2 separate regions of the Homo sapiens genome follow, and region 1 is linked to region 2. The links come from fine-mapping of genetic effects on gene expression. A gene starts in region 2. The other region holds a variant in brackets. All regions are shown on one strand. Distances are from middle to middle.

Region 1 (11,556 bases), 56 kb after region 2:
CTTCCCTCTGTCCATTGGCACAGTGTATCCTCCTCCCATCCTCCACCCCTCCCTCCTGGTCACAGGTTCTGCCCTGAGATCTGAAGTAAGCTGTGGGACTCATCTACCTGGAGAAGAAGGCAGGCAGAAGAGGAAGGGAGGGAAGGATGGAGGAGCTGGTGAAAACTAACAGTAAGGTGAAGGGTAGGGCTGGGGGCTGGGTCGGAGCCACAGGATTCATGGCGTACTGTGATTTTTTTGTTGTTGCTATGGTCCTTTCTACCTGGATGAATTCCATCTCCCTCACTGGACCAGAAGCTCCTCGAGGAAACTCTGCGCCCTTTAGACTCCAATCTTCTTGGAGAAGCTACAGGGTGTAGGAGAAAGAACATGAGTTTGGAATCGCTGGAAACTGTCAAATCTCAGCTCCTTCCACTTTTTTCGCTGTGTAACTTTAGAATTCCTTTAGCCTCGTTTTTCCTTCTTTCTTTCCACATAGCATGGGGCCTTCAACTGCTGGAGGGTCTGGGCGGTCATTTATCCTTGCTGGGCCTCAGAGGCCTCATGAGTGGTGCCTTTAAGAGTGCAATGAGGCCGCAGCAGAAACTATCTCTAAGGCCAGCTCTTAAATTCTCTAACCCATGCTCCTGGCCAACTCTCCTCTGTCCAGCCGCAGGTCCTCATAGAAAGGCAGAGACACTGAATAGAACATAGAAGGGGTTGTTTTCCTAAAGCTCATATAAAATTCTGAAGCCTCAGCGATGGAACCTGCATTTGGGAGCTGCTCGATCTTTTCTGTTAGCATTTCCGCCACGTGCTTCTCAGCGTTTTGCCCCAGTTGGCCTTCCGCCCCTGGGAGGGGGAACAATGTCTCCTGGTGAAAGTCACTTTGCAGCTGCCCTGGGCCCTCGGACCCTCAGGGGCCTTCTGGGTTGTGAGGCGTGGGGCACCCCGTCCTGAGCGTGCCCTGAAGATGGGCACAGAGCTCCCCCAGCTGCCGTGGCACTGTTTCCATGCAGCTGTGGGGATGGTGACAAGGCCTGAGGGCTGTCAGCCCGGCTGAGAGCACTCAAGAGCCACTTCACCGGCCTTCTTTTCTCTTTCCAAGGCTCTTAACCCACTTGTGGAGGGGGTGGCGGGTGAGGGGCTGAAGAGGGTGGATGTCCACTTTGGGCAGACAAAGGAGCTGCAGTCAGCCTCCTCTCCAGCCTGGCTCTGGAGAAATGCAGTCAGCCTCCCCTCCAGCCTGGCTCCAGAGATCCGGAGCTGAGGGCAGTGTAGGAGCTGGCAGGGCCCTTGGCAAAGTGGAGCCCAGCAGGCTAGTTGTCCCAGGTTTATCGCCCAGGATTGGGGGGCTCTGTGTGGCTCCTGTCTTAGCTGATGACTCAGATCTTGGACTATTTCTCCCTTATCAAGGTCTTCCTCATCCTAAACTTGGCCTTGATTTGAGCCTCTTTAGTTTACCAAGTGTTTACCTGAATTATCTCATTTAATTTCACAGCAACCGGTAAGGGATGCATTGTGAGCATCATCTTACTGAGGACTCAGTGGCTATGACTCAGGACTGTGTCCTTTGCCTAAGGAAGGCCACACAGCTAGTCAGTGGCAGAGATAGGACTAGAATGAGTTCTTTTTCTCCCAGGGAGACCCAGTGGCCAGAAGGCACCTGCAGCCAGGCCACACCGCCCCCTTAGGAGCGATGGGGGACAGCAAGAACTGACAAGCCCTGATGGCATACAAAGCCTCCAGGTGACCAGCAGTGACAGACGCCAGCCAGGACATCCTTTCCAGAACCTTCTCTAGCTCTGCTGGCATAAGCAGCACCTGGTTTTCAAAGGCTTTCTTTGGTGTGTGTCTATGGTCATAAAGAATTGTAATAAACAATGATTAAGGGTCACAATATAGGCTGGTGCTGTGTTTCCTCCCTTAGGAGCAGAGGAAAGTGGTTGAGGTCTCCAAGCAGGTGGGGAGCCCTTGGCCCCTAGGAAGGCAGGAAAGTCTCCCAGGATAAATCTGTCTGTTCTAGGCTCTGGTGAACCCAACGGAAAGCCCTACGAGCCTGGCTGGTGGCTGAGCTGCCTTCTCCATAGGCTGTTCACCAATCTCGAGAGTCACCTGCCATGAAGTCCCAGGAGTTCTGACATCCAGTGTTCATGCCCATGGAGCAACCAACAAGAATGTTCTGTTCACTGCCGCATCCTTAGATCTAACACAGCACCTGGCATATGGTAGATGTTGAGTACATTGTCAAACAAACGTAAGTGAAAGGAAACCTACAAGATCATCATCTGCAGATAAGTCACAAATTATTAGCCCTATTTTTAGAGGTGGTAGTGAGGCCCAGAGAGGTAAAGTAACATGCCCAATGTCACACAGCCAGTTAGTGAGGGAAGTGCCAGACTCTAGGTCTCCTTTCACTATACTCTGTCCCTTCTGAAGGGGGGAAGGTAGGAATGTGATGACCTCGGCCCCAGGGCCAAGATATGTTCTTGCCATGTTTCTTAGCTGCATTGAGTTGACAGTGATCTGATGTGGCTAGGTAATGAAGAGATGGTTTTTCTCTGGGAAGTGACTCTGCTCCCTGACTTCTGGCAGGCATGCGGGAGTGGGGAGGAGGTATCTCTGTGTGGAGCTCTACATTCTGTCTTAGGAGCACAAAGCTCTTCACAGCTCACCTACGCATCTTGAGCCCAGCTTTCTTCTTCCAGGAAGGGGGAATGAAAGCAACTATTAATAAGGTAATAAGAACTGAATCAACCATCCAGCCTGGTCTTCCAGAAGAGTTTGATGGCCTCTAGCCTTGGGCAAGAGAGACAGAGCCCGGGCTGCAGTTTCCTGGCCTAAAGGATGAGTGTCTGCAGATCCATCTACCAGTTTCTAGAATCTTTAAAGCAGCAGGAGGAAGCAGGATGGGGCATTATATGGGCTCTAGTCTCTTTACAAAGTCATTCAGAGGAAAACAGGGACCTAGGAGAATTTTGGAGTGTGGTAGCCAGACAGACCTCTCAGAAATTCCCTTGATTTACACTAGCCATCACCAAAATCCCTGTGTCTCCATTCTCTCCCTTTGGAGGGCCGTTCCCAGCACGAGTTACCCAGAACTACCCACCCAATCAGAGCCCTTGGCTCTCTGTGGCAGGGGGCCCTCTCTGGTCAAGAGCAGCCTCGCTGGTCCTGGAGCCTGGGCCAGAGCCCGCCTGTCACTCTGCAGCTCCGCAATGTCGGGACACCAAAGGGCAGTGCCAGTAGCCCGCTGCAAGCTGACAAGGCTGAGTTCACATCAGTGCTGAGGAGTCGACAGGACCATCTGAATTAAGTGGCCAAGTTTAGTTTTTAATTAAGTCCCCGTGGTCTTTTAAAAAGGTCACTGACGACACCATCTTCTTTAAGGCCAATATGAAAAGACATTCAAAGTCAAAGTTCTGAGATGGGAGCCTTGTAACTTGAAATGTCACAGGAAGAAATTTGGAAACAGGGAAAGAGGAAGCTGGTGGGAAGGACAACCCTGTCACATTCTTTTGCCGTCAGCTTCACAGTTCCCACTTGGAGCTCCAAACTATTTCGGTCTCAAAGGGCAAGTGGTCCCAAGGTTCTCTCGAGTGCCTTCCCCGACAGAGGATTGTGGAGCCTCTTGTTTGCTGTGCCAGTGAAAAACAGAGCCCTTGTGGTCCCTGACACGGAATAAAAGTTGATAGCAATGGGGCAGAATGTGGCAACTTACCCCTGATGGCTGAGGAATTAACAAAAATGTATGCAATTGGTCACCATCCTCTGCACCCATTCCTGTCTTCACTTTTCTACCTACCTTGATCAGTACTGTATCATTTGGAAGTACAGTTCTGTCTAAAACAGAGCACAGCAGCCACTTAAGTCACCCATAGCATCCTATGAGGATTGTACAGTGAGAGCAAAGACCTGTGCCTGGCTTAGACCCCTAAGAGAAGTAGAGACTTGAGGTAATTTGAGCAGAGTGGACCACACCTCCTAGAGAAGAGATTTGGACCAGCCAATAGCTAATGAGCAGGCGCAAGAATATTTTCCTGGAGTTCTTGGCTCACGCCAATGTCTGAAGAGCGGGACTTTCTGAGTGGTGAAGCGTTCAGTGACTTTGCTAGGGTCAGAGGGGTTGGAAGTGCTCAGTAGTGTGTGTCACATTTTGTTCATGTTTGCAATAGGCCATGTAGGAAGTGGAAAGAATTTTGGATTTAGATTCAGGAAATTTGGGTCTTGGGGCAAAGAGTGCTATTTGCCTACCTAATATACATTCTCCCATTTATTTACCATTACAGTACTTTCATTGTTGGTGTGGCAGGTTACCCAAGTTAACCAAATATGGATTTCCTAGCCTTCCTTAAGAAGCTAGAGGTGATTGATGCGAATATTCAGAGATCACTGGTAGGCTTCTTTAAAGATGGCTGATTCACCTGGGAGGTGCACCTCTTTTGTCCTTTCCTCTTGTTTCTTCTTCCTGCCTGAAATGTGGGGCTGATGACTGGAGCTTCAGCAGCCATTTTATGACCATGAGGTATGACCCAAGAATGGAAGCCAGTGCTAAGGATGGGCTGCCCATCTACTCCTGGTCTTCATTTTATGTGAGAGAAAAGCAAACCCCTAATTTGCTTATGCCACTTACTTTGGATCTCTGCTACACCCAGTTGAATGCCAAACTGATACACATTGATTGCCCACTCTGTCATTCACTCCTGAGGGACTTTGGGCAAGTCACTTAATTTTTCTGGGCTTCGGTTTCCTTACCTCTGCAGTGGGAATAATAATTCTGGCTTTGTCTTGCAAGCGTTACTTCTGACCTGTAGGGCTCACTCTTAGGCTTCCTAGAATGTTCTCAACCCCAGTCTGAAGATCACGTGGTTTTTGTGCCTGAGCAGTGGCTGCCTCCCTCCCATTGTTTGGCCAGATAATTGTTCCCAAACTAAGAAATGTGCCTGCCTTCCGACTTCAATGGCTGTTATAAAGTCCCCTTGTGGGCTCCCATTTTCTAGAGACACAATAGCTTTTCCTGGCTTGCCCAGGCCTCACCCCTCCTTGCTGGGTGCAGAGACATCTGCTGTTTCAAGCTGCTAAAAGAGAAGCTTCAAAGAACCCCACATTGGCCCCTCTTAGGGCTCTGACTCATATAAATGTTTCTAGAAATCCTCAAAAGCCTTATTAATCTGTTAAGACATCCCAGAAGCAGGAGTCTGCACACCCAATTTCCACGGCTTTTCAGCTGCTTCCATTGTCTCAGCCGCATTGTCCCTGCTCGGTGTCTTGGCCCCTAATGGACTCTCTCTGAGGCAGGCACGCTTTCGGCTGCACCTGCTATTCCATTGCCTGACTCTTTTCTTCTTCTTCTCTGTTCTCTTTAACTCTTAAAATGAAAAGGTGACCAGCTCTTCCTGGGCTGTTTACTCCTCTAGCTCCCCTGTGCGGGTCTCTGCTTCACCCCCTTTCTCTTCTGGCATGTGGCTGGATCTGAGTCAGAGACATAGAGGCCCACATAGAAAGTAGGGGCCCATTTGTCTTTTCCATCAAATGGAAGCCTCTAGGGGTCTGTCATTCCTCATGCCTAGCCAAGATACCGGGTATCCCCACAAGCCTCTGAAGGGGAC[T/C]TGCTTACAGCTCTTGCATATAGAAGCTCTAATCAGGCTTCTCCAGAAACTCCCTCATCTCTGGTCCATACAGTAATGACCCTCTGATGTGTAACCTTCACTGTGGTTGAAGGGCCCTGGAGAAAGAGCCAGAAGACCAGGGCTCTGTTCCTGACTTGACCCCAGCTGGTTTCCATTTTCTTAGACTAGCATCAGGGGACTTAACTTGACAGCCAAGGTCCCATGGTGGGCAGCTTGCCAATTACTCCTGCCTCCTGGTTTTCAGACCCCTGTGTGCTCCCTTCCCTTGAGTATGGGCTAGACCTGGTGACTTGCTTCTAACCAATAGAACACAGCGAGAGTGATGGGCTATCACCTCTCTAGTTAAGTTATAAAAGACTAGTTTGCGTGTTCTGTCCTGTTGGCTCTCTCTTTTTCTCTCTGTCTCTCCTTCTCAGATGCTTGCTTTGATGAAGAAAGCTGCTATATTGGAGAGGCCCATGTGGCAAGAACTTGAGTGTAGCCTGTAGCCAGTATCCAGTGGGCAAATGAGGCTCTCAATCCAACAGCCTACAAGGAATTGAATCCAACTGACAAGCATGTGAGTGAGCTTGGAAGCCAACCCTGCCCCAGGTAAGCCTTGAGATGGTAAAGCCCTGACTTACATCTTGATTGCAGCCTTGGGAGAGACCTTGAAGCAGAGGGCCCATCTAAGCTGTGCCCAGATTCTTGACCCACATATATTTAGAGGTAATAAATGTCTGTTGTCTTAAACTGCTAATTTTAATACAGCAAGAAATAACTAATCTAGGTCCTTATTAGCTAAGAAGAAATGTGTTTCTTGCCTTGTTCCTCTGTATTTAAACTCTAGGTCCTTAAACCTTTCATACCCACGAGCTAGCCACTTGGGTTGTGCATGTGCACCACCCAACTCCACCAACCACCCCACTCCAACACTCAAATCTATGGGTGGTGCAAATCCCTTTACTCTTACTCCAAACATACATGATCAGAAAAAATGGAAGAAAGACATAGCTGAAATAGAGCTCCAATGAGATGATTCCTGGTTTCTACTAGGAATATAAGTAAAATTTGAATTTTTGCCAGAATCCAAAGTATTCAAGGAAGGGCTCCTTATACACCTTTGATCATTCACTTCCATGTCTCATCTTTCAAAGCTTGGCTTAAACTTTCCTCCTCTGGGAAAAAAGACCCTGACTTCTTCAGTTAGGGTTACTGTTCCCTCTCCCAGTCACCCATCAGTTTTGTCCATATCAGAGCATTCTATTTTAGTTATTTGCATATTCCCTTCTCTCTCTCACCCCTCCACGGATCTCCTACCCCAGGAAGGTCAGCATCCAGTGACCTTTTCAGGAAATTACCCAGGATTTCACAATCTTAGTCAGAAGCGAAATTTAAAACCCTTTGTCCCCCGTCCTCCCAGCCCCCCGATGTTCCAGGAAGCCAAAGCACAGAGCAATCTTTCCAATCTAGGAAGCAATAAAGAAATGTATTTATGAACCAGCCTCTATCTAAGGGAGAGAATTTATGTCTCTTCATGCTCTTGTTGACAATAATAACTGATTGCTGCATCAATGTGATGCAATATAATTTTAAAACCCTCCAGAACAAGGATCAGAAAACAACTGGCAGAGAGACTGAGCGGCAGCCGTGGGCATCTTGGGTTTTGCAGCTCAGCCCTGGGCCTGCTAATGCCCTGAGGCGATGGGAACACAGCTCTGGGAGCACCTGCAATCTCATCTTGTTTCTTTCCAAGCACCAGGGAAGAAAAGCAATTTGTTTGCTCTCATACTCTAAAGATGAACTTCCCGTGCTCAATCAAACGTTATTATCCCAATGTAAGTCAATTTACCTTTGAATTTGAAGGCTATTTTCTTCCTAAATGGCTAATTATGGGAGATAGATGGCTGTAAACAGAAGTCTTCTACCTCAACACTCCGCCAGGTTTTCTCCTTATGGCACCTGAGAGAACCAGAGAAAGGAGGCCTCACAGTGTCCTGGCCCCCTCTGCCCACTTGCCGCCCCTCCTCCATTCTTCTCATGCATCCTGCGGTGCCATTCGCCCACCCCGCCTACATTCCTGGACGCCTATTTGGAGTTTCATCCCCCTGAATTCCATCCCCTGCCGCGTCCATTTCTAGGAGCTCCATTCCCTCGTGCCATCTCCCGTTTTTAAGGACTGGACTAAAGGTGGAGGTCTTGGCCTGAGAACCGTGCATACGGGACAGCATGAGTTTTAGGAGACAAGGGGTCCTGTGTGTGTTTGAGATGAAACAAGGTCACCTGAGGCCGCCTCTTTGATTTGCCTGACAGAGTCACAGAAGCTGACCGCTGCGAGGCAGGGGCTGCGGCCTTTTCCCGTGGCATGATCAACACCTCGCAGGAACTAATTGAATGGCCGAGTTTGTTTACTGAGAGGAGGAGTAGCCCCCTCCTTTCTCGCAAAACAAAGTCTTTCCCCAGGAGCGGTGGCAAAGAGGTCAGCCCTGGCAGCGTTTCTGTTTTGCCTTTTGATGAAAGCCTACTCTGGCTGCTCTGAAGAAGGGAGCTCATTGTGTGCTCACTGTCAGAGGTGGCTCCAGCAGGGAGGCCACAGCCCTGGGGGCTTTTTGGGTCTTGGGGTTATGGAGCCTGTGGTGTGTGGGGTTATCTACAGGGACTGAGCTTTCTAGCTCTTCTCCCAGAAGTCTGGCCTCTGGTCCTCTGCCCTTTCCACCTGGGCCCCAGAAGCCATAGTAATAGCAACCTGCCTTTGTCCGGTGCCTCGTCGTCGTTTATGCAAGTCTATATACTTTATCTCACTTGATCCTCACAACCATCCTGTGCTGTCATCCTCCCCTGACAGATGAGGGAGAGGCCCAGAGAGGTCAAGTGCTCTGCCTGAGGTCACACAGCTAGGAAGTGACATAACTGGGACCTGCCTCCCTTTGGCTTGAACGCCTCTGATCTCTCCCGTCTGTCACAGTCCCATCACAGAAAGGCAGGCATGTGGCCCCGTGGTTGAAGCCCTGCCCCAGCTGTGGATCCGCATCACCTGGGCCAGGCTTCCAATTTATGATACTTACTGAGACCTTGGCACCACGGCCTTGATAAACCCCTCTGCCCTGGGCTTGAGCTTGCTGTTCTGTCGGGGGCAGTTCGCGGGGCTGGGAGGACAGGTAAGAAGGGAGGAGCTTTTCATGAGCTGCTCTGGAAAAGTTTAAGGCCATGGTAGGGTCAGCTCAGGAAAGCACAGCAGGGCAAGGGGCAGGTAGGCCTGTCCAACTCAGCTAATAGCTACAGAGGTCTCAAGAAGTAATGATTGGAGGCCTGACTGAGGCATAGAGACCAATAGGAGACGCTCTCTCTCCTAGCTCAGACCAAGGAACCCTAGAACATGCTCCTCCAAGTTCACCCACCGTCACCCTGCAGGGGAGGGGTCTGCCACACTCCAAAAAAGAATCAATCCACTGTGTGTTCTGTGGACTGTTATTTAGAGATGCCCCTACAGATTCCTGGAGCTGCTGGGCCCCATGCCAGGGCAAGGATCCCAGGACTCCCTGTTTAGCATAGTACTTTGATTAAAACAATAAATTCCCATTGAATACCGATGGGCAGGCAAGTGGGGGCTCATGCCAGCCTCGGTGCCCTCCTGGCATCATCTCACAGCAACTCGTTTGGGGAGAAATACCTCCCTCCGCTGTGATGAGAACCCTCATTCCCAATGAATGAGGGGGCAGAAGCTGCCTGGGAGCCTCAGGAATGAGGGCATCATGGGCAGGACAGGGTAGGACTGGGGCAGCTGCAGATGGCACCAAGGATATGGGGGCCTTGACTAAGCAGGGAGGGCCACAGAAGGGGAGAGGGGGCACACAGAAACCTCAATGGCTGGCCCCTGTCTGGTCCTCACCTCCTGACCCTGTCTCTGCAGACATGCTGAACTGGGAGGAACATGCTTGGGTCTTGGCCCCCTGAGCAGCTGTGCTGGAGCCACGCCTCAGTGCCCAGCGCTGCTGCATCTGCTCTCTGGCAGCACATGGCTGCATGTTTCTCTGGGCCCTGCCTGGTGCGCAGCAGCCATATCCTGGGCAGGTGTGCTGGGGCTGTTGCCTCACCTGGCCCTGGGATGCTGGTAGCTCCGGATTGACCAGGGTTTCTGATGGGAAGGGATGTATGGGAGAAGCCAGGGAGTGGAGAGAGAACTCGTGTTCCCCGATACAAGGCTTTTTACCCATGTCTCCCCAAATAGCCCCCCCTCCTCCCACTAGCCCCGAGGCTGGAGATCAACATCATGGTCCCATCTTTAAGAGGAACCAGGATCTGTTTTGAGATGGCCAATCAGCCAAAGAATGCCATAATTCACGTTATCCATTCACTTTTCAGTTGACTTCCTTCCTTCCTTCCTGCTTTCCTTTCTTCCTTTTATCCTTCCTCCCTCCCTTCTATCCATTCAGTAATATTTACTGATAATCCTTCACATGAGGCCCGATGCTAGGCTGTGGAAATCAAAGATGAATAAGCAATAGCTTCTGTCCTTGTGCTATCTCCTCCGGGTGTCCAGTATTATGACCACTGTATTTCTGAACCGAAAACGAGGACGCAGAGCTGACAGGGGTGAGTGTACACGTGGGAATGGGCAGGAAGACCACCCTGAAGGTCTGAGGCATTCTGTTCCTAAGCTAGGATGAAACTGAGTATTCCATACATACTGGCTGCATTGCATTTTTGTCTAGCATTCTTTAATAAGAACAGTAAGAGCTGCCATTTGTTGAACATGTACCATGTGCCAGGCTTGTACAAGATAATGTGTATACCATATCTCATTTAGTCTTCACCACAGCCCTACAGAGAAATTCACTGTCCAGACAGGGAAACTGAGGACCAGGCCGTTCGCAGTTAGTGTTAGTACAGTCCTTCTTGGCCACTCTAAATCCTCTGCTGCCTCTACAGCTGGAGGGTTCTGATCCGTTGGCTTACAGGTGTGTCCTGTGGGCCACATGGGGGTGGGTGGGTGTTCACAGCACACTGCCTGGAGCCATGGTGCACACAGCAGGGGGTCTGAGGCTGCGCAGAATGGCCCACTTCTAAACAAGCGTGTCTGAGCTTTGCCAGGTGTCCATGTTTGGAACACAATAAAAGAGGAGGTCTTCGAAAGGAGGTGACTCAGAGAAGCAACGCTAGACTCACCCCAGAGCTGCAACCTGCTAACTTCACAGAGCCTCACAGCAGAATTATTTAACCCCAAGCCCCCTCTCCTCATGGGGACAAAAGAGAAATCAGGCTGATGCTATCTCCCTCATAGCACACTTAGGAGGAGCAAATGAAACGGCATATGTAAAAGTGCATTGTAAATTGCAAAGTGGCAGATGAGATTATTATTACTGCTTCCTTCACCTCAACAAAGACCCATAATCACAGACAATGCATCGAGCCTGGTGAGGGTGTGGCCTTTCTTGGCCCTGCCCTTTCTCCTTGGCTCCTCCCACGCTCTTGGCTTTTCTCCTGGATTCCCTGCTCTCCCATCTGCAGCAGGTTGGGGCCCCATGGATAACTATATCTAGGGACCGACTCCTGGGATCTTACCAAGTCACATTTGCAGTTGGTGCCTCCTTAGTCACTGCCAGGATTCCAGGCAGGTATAATGTGCTGCACTTAATGTAGAGGATCAGGGTCCCAGTGAGCAGCTTCATCTTCAGGCGTCGGGAGTGGGAGCAATGGAGCACCCATGGTCTCCAGGTCTCAGGCCACTTGGGTCTGGGATTTGAGGCTCAGGGGGAGGAGTCCTGCGGTGACTGCTGTGAAGTGGTGTGGGGGCTCAGGATGGGACCTACTTCATGGGACATGATGGATGAGACTCAGGATGCCAGGAGGGAGGCACAGCCCACACTTAGCAGCTTGGCGCACGCAAATAGGAGCTCTGCTCACAGCCTGTGCTGGGCACTTCATTTCCCAGAGACAACCGGCGCGTTTTAATAATGTCTACTTGGGT
Region 2 (11,556 bases):
GAGACAGTGGGTGAGCCCTCCCATTGGCTCTGCCTCTTTCTTGAGCTTGGGACTGTTAAAACAGGGGCCAGAGCAGCACCTGTCTTGCAGAGTCCCAAGGCTGAGAATGGAGGCTTTGCAAATTTGAAGTTGCACCCATTAGAAACCTGCATGGGTGGTGCGGGAGACAGTGGGTGAGCCCTCCCATTGGCTTTGCCTCTTCTGCTCATCCGGGTTGGCTTCACAGCCTCCTGGAGTGTTGTGTCAGCCATGCAAAAAGGGCTCAAATGTCACCATCTGCCTTTTATTAGTGACCAATTGGAGAAGGCTTAAGAATACTTATACTGGGGTTATTTATTGCCGGCTTTCTCCCAGCCTGGAGCTTGTAAATTGCCTCTTATGAGATTAAGGGAAGCTGCCCCTCCAGAGAAGCAAGCAAATAGGAAGAAGGGAAGGAGAGAAGAAGTCAGCTCAGTGGCTCCTGGTGACATCAGAACAATATCGGGTAGGGTGGGAAAGACAAGGGCAGCGTGACTCAGTTCATACCTCGAAACCCAAGTCTTGAATTCTGCTGTGTTCCTGCTGCTCAGCACAGGGCCAGCATCTAACACAGGAGGATCAGCTTTGAGAAATTTCCAGAATGCCCAGTTGGTGACCTGCTCGGGGAACAGGATTGGGGGTGATAGAGTATGTTCTGACCCACTGACTGACGGATAAAAATGGATTTTTATGGAGGTTCTAGGGGGTTTCAGTCACTGTTTCAGCTCTCAGGATGCCATGGTGCCTCAGGCATGAGCAGGAGCCACCTCAGCAATCTCCAAGTCCCCAGGTTGGGTGTGGGGTGTGCAGGAGGGGCTGATATGTCTTCCGCTGAGTAGGCTCTGGAGCTGCGGGGAGGCAAATATGTGCAGAAGAAACTAGAATAAAAAGCTCTACACCATAAGCGTCAGAGTGAGGCACAAAGTCCCAAAGAAGGAGTCACAGAAGGGTTGGCTTCTGAAATGGCCAGGATGAAGACAAGGTGGGAATGTTCCCTGGAATGGGGAACAGCTTACGTCAAGTGTGGAGAACAGATGTGTTCATGGAATAAAAGCAGCAGTGCCACATGGTCTAGGCTTGATCTCTGACCCTGCCATTATGGCTGTGGGTCCCTGGGCAAATTGCTTAGTCCCTCTGAGCCTCAGTTTCCCCATTGGTTTAGCAATCAATACTTGTTGAGTTGTTTGTGAGAATGAAATAGGTCATTCTCTGTGATGTGCACAGAGCCCTGCCTGCCTTCCATAATGGCAGCTGGCAGTATCATTACAAGCCTAGCAGGCTGGGTGCACGGAGCATGTGTGTGCAGACTCTCTTAGTACAGCGCAAATCTAGAAAGTCCTGGTGGGTCAGACCGTGTGGGCCCTTGAACGTGTGCCAAGAAGTTTGTACTTCATGAGAAGTCATCAAAGGTTTTTGACCCACATGCTCAGATCTGAGTTTTAGAAATATCACGGTGATGACAGGGAGGAGGATGAATGAAGGAGGATAATCTGAAGACAGGGAGACTGATCAGCAAGGTTTTGCTGTCATGAGGACTCAGGCTAACGCTGCATCAATGGAAAGAAGAAATGGATTTAGGAGCCATTTGGGGGTAGAACTGATAGTACTTGACCAGGGATGAGGAAGATGAAAGTGTGAATGGATGATGGAGGAGCCATTTGCTGCTCAGGAGGAGAAGCGCGCTTGAGGTGAGGCAGTGAGTTCAGTTTTAAATGTGTTGATGGAGAGGGGTCCAGAATCCCCCAGGTGATGCTGTCCCAGATGTAGTTGGGTCAATGGTTCTGGAGCTGGGAAGGAGGTGTGAAGAACTCACACTGACTGAGCACTACCTATGGGTCAGGCAGTAGGAGAAGTATTTTCAGGTGTCCTCTCACTTGGTGTTGACCTGATAATTCAACTCCAAATATGGAAAGTTATAGATGTTGTTGTGACTATCTAAGAGGGACAAGGTTACTCCAGTCTGGGAGTGTTGGGAGTAGCTGCCTTGGGTGAAACATCTAAATCTTGTTGAGGTTTGCACAGGTTTTGAACCATATCGGGATGGCAAGAGATCATCTAACCTAATCTTCTCCCTTTAGACTGGGATTGGAAATATAAACAGAGAAGCCAGAAGAACCAGGCAGGGGTAGAAGACAGGGCCTTTTCTCTATTGTCTGTTTCTCCTTGATTTCTACTGGGAGAGAGACAAAGAAACACTTTCCATCCCAGCATCGCCACCTGCAGCCATTGGTAGCTTGATTCTGATACACACGTAAGGAGAAGCTTGCCAGTCTCATGAACATTACAGAAATTGCACTAGAATTTTACTTGGACTTACAAAAAAGAGGCTGACTGCTCTTCCCAGGGCTGGATGAGGGGGTGGAAAGTCTGAGGGCACATTCCCCTATGCTTGTTCCTCACCCGGGCTGAGCCAGTGTGGGCAGCCTGTGATTCTCCCAGCCTCGCACTTCTCTCCCAGGACACAAAATCCACCAAGGTTGTCCTGGACAGTGTGGGTCTTTAACGAAGAGCAATCGGGCTGGCCGAGGCAGGGTGAGTCCAAAGTCACTATAAATCCTTTGCCTACTGATGATCAGGCTCGCGGCCCCTGCCAAAGCCTGCACTGTACTCATTAGTGGCAGGGAGAGGGATTCTTCCATCGATCCAGCCAAGGCCTGGATGCCACGAAGACACTGATAAGTGCTGCTGGAAATATGGGCTCTTCAGTGCCCATGGCAGAGCCCATCCATCCCTGCCCGAGGTCACCTGGAGGTCTAAATGAGACAGGACGGGCATAGCAGAGTGGGTTTATGGTGGGGGAGTGGAGATGGGAGATGCTCGACAGCGCATGAAGCAGAGACCCTGGCTGTGGTCTCAGGCCTGTTGCTGGCCAGCCATGGGACCCTGGCTAAGCCCCCTTTCTTCTCTGAGTCTCAGGCTCTTGTGTCTTCTGACTGGAATGTGCCCTCACTGAGCCGGCACCTTGGGATGTGTTGGAGCAGCATGGAAGGAAGAGAGTGGCACTAAGGGGCAGGGATGGAACTATGCCATTAGCTCAAGAGGGAGCTGCAGGCTCGGCTATGGGCAGGCTCGGCTACAGCAGACAGAGTGCCCATCAACCCCTCTCAGAGGGCGTCAGCGTGGGCACCACCAGGAGAGGCTGGAGGCTAGGTCATGGATTGGCTGACTCCAAGATGCCCAGCACCTCTTGCTCCCATGTCTAAGGGGTACTGTATGGACACATGAAGCTTTGTCCTTGTCCTGGGCCCAGAAGGTACCAGTTGATGCTGCCTCTGCCACCTCTTAGCTGTGTGCCCTTGGGCCTGACTCTTTAACTAAGACTCAGATGCCTTATCTGTAAAATGCAAGGTTTAAGCGCCTTCCTCCCAACCCTAATGCTTGATGTTCTAACTTATCCAAAATCCTATTTCGGGGGTGGGGGGTGGTCCTAAGGTTGAAAATAATAAAATCAAGGTGCAAAGAAGTGAAAGCAAGTCTCTCAAGGACACTTGGCCTTTTGGGGGCTCAGATCTATATCCTAAACATTAAAAAAAGTAAACAAAATAATCATTTATGCTGCTATAGCCTTGTCAGTCAGAGACGGTTCTAAAACTTCCATGTGCATGAGGATCACCTGGGGGACTGGCTAAAAATAACAGTTTCCTGGGCTCCAACTCAGAGATTCTGGGATAGTGGCTCTGAGCTGGGTCAAGGAATCTGCATTTTAATAGCTTCTGGGTCATCCTTCTGCAGGCGGTTTCTGGGCCACATCCTAAGGGCACTGTTGTGTGCCCACAGCACGGGCTTGTGGGCCTGGGTTATTTCTAGTTCAGGCTCTGTCACTGGGTGGCCTTGATTAAGTGGCTGTCTCTCTCTCGGGGTGCGCATTGATGTTCCCACTGCACAGTGAAGGCATTTTCACACCTTTTGAAAGTTCATGCAACCCTTTTTGTCAGTGAAGTCTCACAGGGAATCCCAGTGTATAAAACGGTGGAGGCAGAGCTGAGGCAGCGCGGGAAGGACCGAGTCCTGCCCTCGGCAGCCCTGCAGCGGGCCCTCAGGACCCTCTGTGCAATGCTCAAGGATTCCAAAGGCCCTGTGCAGTTTTGATGCTCTTCAGGTGTCCTGTGAAGGACCACGTGGCTATATCCCACTGACGGTGTGAAAGCAGGCCCACCCGGCGTGCACTGAGTGACTCAGGCAGGCTGGTCTGAAGCACGAGGTGCCTTGGTCTTGCTCTCTGAGCCTGCATGGAGAATCACAGCTCAGACCTGGTGCTTATAGAGGAGTCTTCTCATGGTTCCTGGAGTTGTTCCCAACTGGACACAGACCATCTTGGGGCAACGTCCTGGGTTTCTCCCCTCTTGGAGACCAAATACAATCAACTCTTAATTATCTTTGTTAGTGGAGAAGAGCAGGGTGTGTATAATCTAGAATGATGGACAATCCAAAACAGTGAATAATCCTAAGTAACATTCATTTTCGACTTTGGAATGCATTTTGATATTCACATTTGAATATGGATATGTTTGATGTTCTAGGAATTTTTCATACTTAAAAAAAACACTCAACCCAAGGGTGGGGCTCCCTCTCTGCCTCCTACTCAGCTGAGGGGAGAACATCACCTCTGGGACTGGCCCAAAGCTACAGTCAGGTGCACCCCACCTTCCCCATCTCCTGTCTTTATGGCTCACACCTTATCTAGGAAGGGAGGGGGATATTAACAGATTTTGCCTTTAAAGGACTTTTATTCCCTTTGGACCTTATGCAAATAAGAGTAAAATAAGAAGCTGTGAAATGTTAACAGAGGACTTCATTAAGCAAACTTGGTGATAGCATTTGCCAGGAATGGGGACAATTTGCCAACAGATACTTGAGTGCTGACTATATATGTGTCCTAATTAAAAAAGTGATACTTCTCACTGCCCTGGGATTGTGGGCCGTCTTCTGGTGGGTTTGGGATATTAACCACAACTAACTCCGATACAAAGCACTTCACATACATTATCTTACCTAATCCACCTTCATAGCACCCCGTGGAGCAGGTCCCATCATCAGCCCCCATGTAGAGACTTGAATATCACAGCTCCAAGCCAGATGTCCCCCGTGAATATACCCTCCCAATTCTGCCCTATTCTACTCCACTCTGCCTCTCCTGTCACCCCCCAAACAGAGGCCCTGCAAAGCCTCAGCTGGTCTGCATCAATCAAAGAGAACGAAGCAAAACTAACTTGCCATTACTGCCCTAGTCTCTCTGATTGTTGGAAGTAGAGATGTTTCAAGGAGAGGTTTTGTGCTGGAAGCCCCTTGAAAGGATGGAGAGGGAGTGTGAGGACTGCCGGAGACGCCCAGCCTAGGAGGGGAAGCTTTCTGCTTTTCCAGCAGGACAGAACTCCTTAGAAGCAGGTGTAGCCCTGGCTCATATCCACCATCCTGAGAAATAGAAAATCTTTCCCATTTTACGGACAAGGAAACTCAGAGAGGTTAACTAACACATCCAGGGTCACAGGGTGTGGTAGAGGTAGGGTTTGAGCCATTTGACTCCAGGCCTGGCTTTTTTTCCCCCAACAGTAGCCGGTCAGCAGAGGGTGTTTGATCTGTGTGGTTTCCTCTTCAGAAAGCAGAGACTCACTACTGTGCCCCCTACCTGCCCCCAGCTGAGCTCCAAAAACAGCTATAAAGCTGATGGGAAGCCGATAGGACAGCCCCTGCCCTTCCTGAAGACCACGGAAACCTCTCCCATGGTGCCCTTGGGGCTGAGATCAGCTCTGTCACCAATACTTCAGGGCAAAAGTCGTTGGCACCACTTTTAATCCTAATCCTGTGTGGCCTTATTCAGAAGCCCTTTGCAAAGGCCGATCCCTAGCCATAGCTCTCTCTGCTCGGCCTTGGGCTGGGTGAATAATGACTTCCATTTCCTGCCCTGCTGGAGCCTTGGGTCTTTGCCACTGCCACCGTGGTGCTGAGCCACTTATTTGTTGTGAGATGACCCAAGGAGGACCAGCCGGTACCTGCTAGGCCCTTCTGCTGGGGCACGGGGTCAGGGGGCAGCACATGGGCATGTGGCCCCACTCCTGTCTGCTCCCCAGGACAACTCTATTTTCCAGCATGGAGTGCCCCTGGAGGTGGCGACAGCTCCTCTAATAAGAGAGTTACTCATGGCTTCACTGGAGAGAAGAGAGCAGCTTTCAACCCCCCTCTCCTAAACGCAACGATATTTGGTAACATGCGGCATCTTGGGGAGAGCATTCATGTCTGTAATTAGTTACTGTATATCACGGTTAGTACTCTGCTCAGAATTTACGGGGCAAATACCATTTAACTGCACAATAACTGCAGGTCCTTGCTGCTTATTGGGTAATTTACTAAGGCTGGAAGAACGGGGCAGGAGGGATTCTGAATGGGAGGTATTGTAACCCCTTGAATCAAACTTTATGAGTTTGGGTTTGGCAGGGAGGCAGCTGCTTGCAGCCAGTTCTCTTCTCTTTGTTTTGCAGAGTTGGCTGGCAGACTGCTTCCTTCCCTTGATTTATTGCAGGATGATAGGTCTGGGACTGGGGGTGGGACTGCCCGGGGCTACCTGGGGCTATGGAAGGGACTTTCCATAGAGGGTCTTTGGCTGAGAGTCTGCAGCAGGAACCCAGAGTCGGTGTCCTGGGGGCTCCATGCAGGACAGCAAATGGGCCCTGTCATTTATTTACTCCCTCCACGGGGCTGCTTTTTGTATCTGGGCCAGTGGGTGGAGAGTGCAGGGAGCTGTCCTTGGTTGGCAGCATCAAGATAATCGCCTAAGCCCTTTCTTCTCTTGCAAGTCCGTTGCTGCCTGGGAAGCAGCCATTCCTGGACACTTGGCCGACATTCCTGGCCTTAATCTGCTTGAGCAAAGTCTGTCTTTGTTTGGCCATGCACTGTCTAAACTCCTCTAACCTATTTAGGCCACAGAGAGGGGAGAAGACACAATAATGAAAAACTCAACGTGCAACATTGCCTTACGCAATCTAATAAATTACTTGGTACCCGGCTGCCAGCTCAGACTAAGCCCAATATTGCCTGCAGTAATTATTTGGATCAAATGCAGTTTATCTGCTTCATATTTGTGCTTCTGTGCTCAGTGATAACTTATAAATGTCATTGTGGTGTTTATTTGTTATAATGAAACTTAATGGCATTGGAAGCCAAGAGCAGAACTGGTGGGGCGGCAGGTTTAAAACAATCTCTTCATCTCGGGAGAAGGAATGAGCCAAGATAACATGAAACTGCCCTATAGGGAAGAGATTTGCAGAGATAGTGGTGTCCTCGTGCTGTGTGGTGGACGGGAGTGAGCCAGGAGCTTTGAGCTGGCACCAAGGGGAGCCGTCTTTGCCTCCAGAGATATCTATCTGGATCGGGGAGACATGGCTGAGCTTCACCCTGCACTGCCCCATCTGTCCTTGCTGCTTTCAGGGGTGGGAGGTGTTCAGTCTTTATACCACCTGATGCCTGCCTGGGATAAGAGATGAATAGGGATGGAAATTAGAGTCCCTGGGCCAGGCACGGTGGCCCACGCCTGTAATCCCAGCACTTTGGAAGGCCATTGAGGGAGGATTGCTTGAGCCCAGGAGTTCGAGACCAGCCTGACAACATGTGAGACCCTGTCTCAATTTTTAAAAATAAAATAAAATAAAATAAAATAAAATAAATAAAATAAAGAACTCCTGGATGACTGCATTATGGAGAACAGGCCTTCAGGGAGAAGGAAGGGAGCAGGGTTGGAGAATAAAGGAGGATATCATGAGGGCCCAGACAGAAGGTGGCAAGGCTTTCTCTTCTGGTTCTGGAGGGCATTGGTGGTAGGAAGCACAGAGCATGAGCAGAACAGGGAAGAGCTTTCAAGGGTTGCAGGGCAGGGCCCCCACTGGCGCTGCAGAAGTACCTGAGGCAAGGGCCATTTAATGTAGAACTCAGGGTTTTGGCTTCATACAGTCCTGGGCTCTGCTATTTCCTAGCTGTGTGGCTTTGGGCAAGTTATTTGTCTTTCCTAAGTTTCATTTTCTTTATGTGGAAAATGTGAGTGATAATAGATACCTCTCAAGATTCTGGTGATGATTAAATGAAGTGATGTGTGTAAAGTAATGACTGTGGTGTTTGGCACACAGGATATATGATAAATAAGGGGCTGTGGCAGTGATTGGCACATAGTAGATGTTCAATAAATGTTGAATGTATCCATGAATAATAACACTTCCCACTTGTGTGCATTACAAAACCCTCCTCCAAACAGCTGAGCTTGGATTTAGACCTCACAATTGTTCAGGGTTGATCTTCTCATTTTACAGTGGGAAATGGAGGCCCAGTGAGGTTATGGTAACTTGCCCAAGGCTTCCCAGCTGGTAGATGGAATGGGGTCTTAGTTCTCCTACCTCCCAGGGCAAGGTTGCTGCCACCAGTCCACCCTGGACAGCTCCCAATCTGTGCTGGGAGACTGACCTCATCCTTCCTGATGAGCTGCCCCTGCTCCTTGGAGACCAGGCACAGAGCCTGTGCTGACCTCCCCAGCACAACCTGGGGGCAGAAGCAAGCGGGCCGCTTTCTGTCCATTTCATCTTAATACAACATTCAGCATTCACTCATAAAATATTCATTTTCTCTCCTCGGTGACATGCTCATGCAAGTCTCCTAACATCATAAATATGGATGAAGACTATTAGTCATTTTTATTTATCTCACTAGCCCCTTCCCTCCCCAGCACACCTTTTGTCTTGATCTCAGCACAAATGGGACTGAATTGGGGCTATTAACCCGGATCTCTGATAATAAAGCCTTGCATCCTGTGGTGCTTTATACTTTTTTTCAAAGCATCACGCAATCGTGATGCATATTTTCTCCTTACAACAAATGCGTGGAGGAAAGAGGGCTAGCATCATGAGTATACCCATTTCGCAGATGAGAACATAGAGGTCAAGAGAGATCAAGGTCAAAGTCATATACTGAGACAGGAACAGAACTAATTTTTAAAAAACATTATTATTGTTATTTGTTTGTTTGACCTCCAAGGAAAGGTTCTCTGGGACACTGAGTGTGTTTGCTTCACACAAATAAATAATCTGTATAGTATTTTACAAGTTTATAAAGAGTGTTCACCCATGTTACTTGGTGGGTCCCCACAAGGCAGGTATGATTTACTCTTGTTTGACAAAGCTCACACAACCAGTTAGTGGCAGATCTGGGCTCTAAAACATTATTTCCCAAAGTGGATTTCAGGGACCACTAGTCCTGACACATGCTGCAGGAAAAATGTTTTGTGGTCAAATGAGTTTGGGAACTCTGTGAGTCATATCCCCTTTGGGTGGCTTACCATGGCCTTTGGTGTATTAGTGTCTCTGAGAAGTTCTGCAGGAAAGACTCTCATTTTGTTAGGTCTCATGTAGCTTCTCCCCACCGTGTCTAATCACGAAGGCTGCATCTGACGGAAAACCTATTAACATGCTACAGAAATGCTGCCTGTGTGTACGCGTGATCCCTCCTCCCCCGTGTGTTTGGAGGCAGTGAGGATTAGAGCGTGGCTGGGAGAGGAGCGTGCAGGGGTAAGGACGGGGTAGGGGACCCACTGCTGGGGACTACTAGAGCTGAAGCTCCCCTCCTCAGGCTGTGTCCTCTCTTTCCCTCTGGGCAGTGCAGAAAATTCACTCAATATTAGGCACAGTCAGCCCAGCCCATATCTGGGGCAGGATCAGAGGGGCCGCCTGAGTGGCGGAGTGGGGGGTCTGTGGTCAGTGAATGGTGGGAGATTTGGGGACGGCAGTCCTTGGCCATGGGGAAAAATCAACAGGGACCCACAATAGGGGCTTAGTCAAGTCTGCCCTGGACGATGGTGGGGAAGTCACCCTATCCTCGTCGCCCAGACACAAAGCTCCCGAGGCAGGGTGGAAGTAAGAAGGCCAGGCTTTGGCGTTCAGCTGGCTTACTCTAACATCTGTGTGCCTTTAGGTGATGATCTAATCTGTCTGAGCCTCTGTTTCTTCCTCCTCAGAATGTGGATAACACTACCCACTTTGTGACGTGGTGAGGATTAGATGGTGCAAGTGTGCAAAAGTACCCTCCTTGGCCCTCGTCTTTGTGTGTCAGCTCCATCTCTCTTCCCCTGCTTTTTTGGAGCCCCTCAGTCAGAACAAATAGCTTCCCACCTCCAGTCCTCCACGAGCCTGTCATCTGTACCTCTCTTTAGTTCTCCCATCGCCCTGCCTTCTGCCATTTTATTATATGCCCATCTCCCCAATGGACCTGAAGTTCTCTGCAGGCTGCTGCTGACTCTCTCAGTGCCCACTTGTATCTGCAGGCCCGACCATCCCGCGTCTTCAGGCCAACCTCCCATTGCCGGTGTCTGGACCCCTTCTCTTGAGGGCTTTCTCTTTAGTTGCGGAGGCCACTGTGCCCTCACACAGAGCAGGCCAGACCTGCTGGGAGACAACACCCTCACCCAGCAGCACTCCACCCATGCCCTACAGGAGCTGGTGCAGAAATACCCCACCGCTTGGGTGCCCTAGCTGTGAGGTGGTGTTCAATAGCACTTCTCAGAGTTTCTTACTGGGACTGGGCTCTGGCTGCCCATAGTGGTAGCAGGTTTGGGGTCCCCCCATGCCGATGCCTCCTTTCCCATGTCAATTTCCAACCCTCCCGCTGGCACCTCTGCACCTTCATGAGGAATGACTACACTAGCGCTCTTGCTTAGGGCCTGCTTCCAGGGGAACCTGAGGTAAGATAAGGGCATCCTCCAGGTGTCATTCATCTCTGCGTACACAGTGGGTGCTGATGAATCTCTGAATCCAGCAGAAATGAGCCATAGGAACAGCGCAGGGGTGACTGTCAATCAAGGCAATGACGTCAGTGGGCTCACCACGTGGGTGGGTCCTGGGAGCAACGAGATAGAATACCTGCTCCCTTCCACATCTGGAAGCATCCACAGCCACACTCACACCTCTGTACCTTCCCCACCTAATGTTTAGTCAAACCTTGGCAGGCACAGAGGAGCTGAGGTCCAGGGTCCTTTCTCTATGAGCTGAGAACAGGTTAGTGTTGTGTTTTGAGATCCTTTTATGAATAATGGTTGAGAAGTGCTGCTCTTTAGTACTAAGAATAGTGGTTATTCCTAGTGCATTTGACTCGGAGATGGGGACTATTCCATTGCTCTATTTGTCCCACACTCGGTACACAGTTACTGAAACTGTCACCGTGTCCTATATTCCATAGGCCATTATGTGTATTTCAAACCGTTATATAAATGGACTTGATTTGGCACTTCTGAATGTCATTAAACTCCTCCCATACCAGTAACAACACAGTTTCCATAGAAACGAATACATTTCAGAAAGGAAGGCACAGGGAAGAAAGCAGATGGAGTTAGGGGGAAAACGCGGCCCCCTGGTTCCTACTTCCAGAGCACAGGGCCCGGCACTGTGACATGAGCACTCTGTGGAGGTGGGGCAAGCTCCTTCAGGTTTTTATTGACTCCCTTTGATAAAAGCCCTGGATAATTCATCTCAGCCTGAACCTGCTCATTCCAGCGCACGGCTCTAAAAACTT

Which allele goes with the higher level. Positions count from the first base shown, and alleles are read on the strand shown. Sizes are in standard deviations (SD) of each study's normalised expression.
In carriers of allele C in region 1, the expression in breast of the gene that starts at base 5,860 in region 2 tends to be lower than with T alone (small effect, 0.22 SD a copy in GTEx).

What was found. PIP is the estimated chance that this variant, and not a neighbour inherited with it, causes the effect.
Region 1: its variant is fine-mapped to the expression of KIRREL3-AS1 in breast (GTEx, PIP 0.96).

Annotation. Positions count from the first base shown.
Region 1 is chr11:126,594,075-126,605,630 of GRCh38, forward strand. All of the region lies in intron 1 of KIRREL3 (kirre like nephrin family adhesion molecule 3), which reads right to left. All of the region lies in intron 1 of KIRREL3-AS1 (KIRREL3 antisense RNA 1), which reads left to right. Among named protein-coding and RNA genes, the nearest start is that of KIRREL3-AS4, 53 kb to the right of the region's middle. RefSeq lists an enhancer at 7,758-8,535. The variant T/C (reference allele first, on the strand shown) is at 5,589.
Region 2 is chr11:126,537,968-126,549,523 of GRCh38, forward strand. KIRREL3-AS1 (KIRREL3 antisense RNA 1) reads left to right here and starts at 5,860. Exons shown (of 2, transcript NR_174952.1): 1 at 5,860-6,277. The region is part of intron 2 of KIRREL3 (kirre like nephrin family adhesion molecule 3); the gene reads right to left. RefSeq lists enhancers at 5,498-6,004, 6,005-6,509.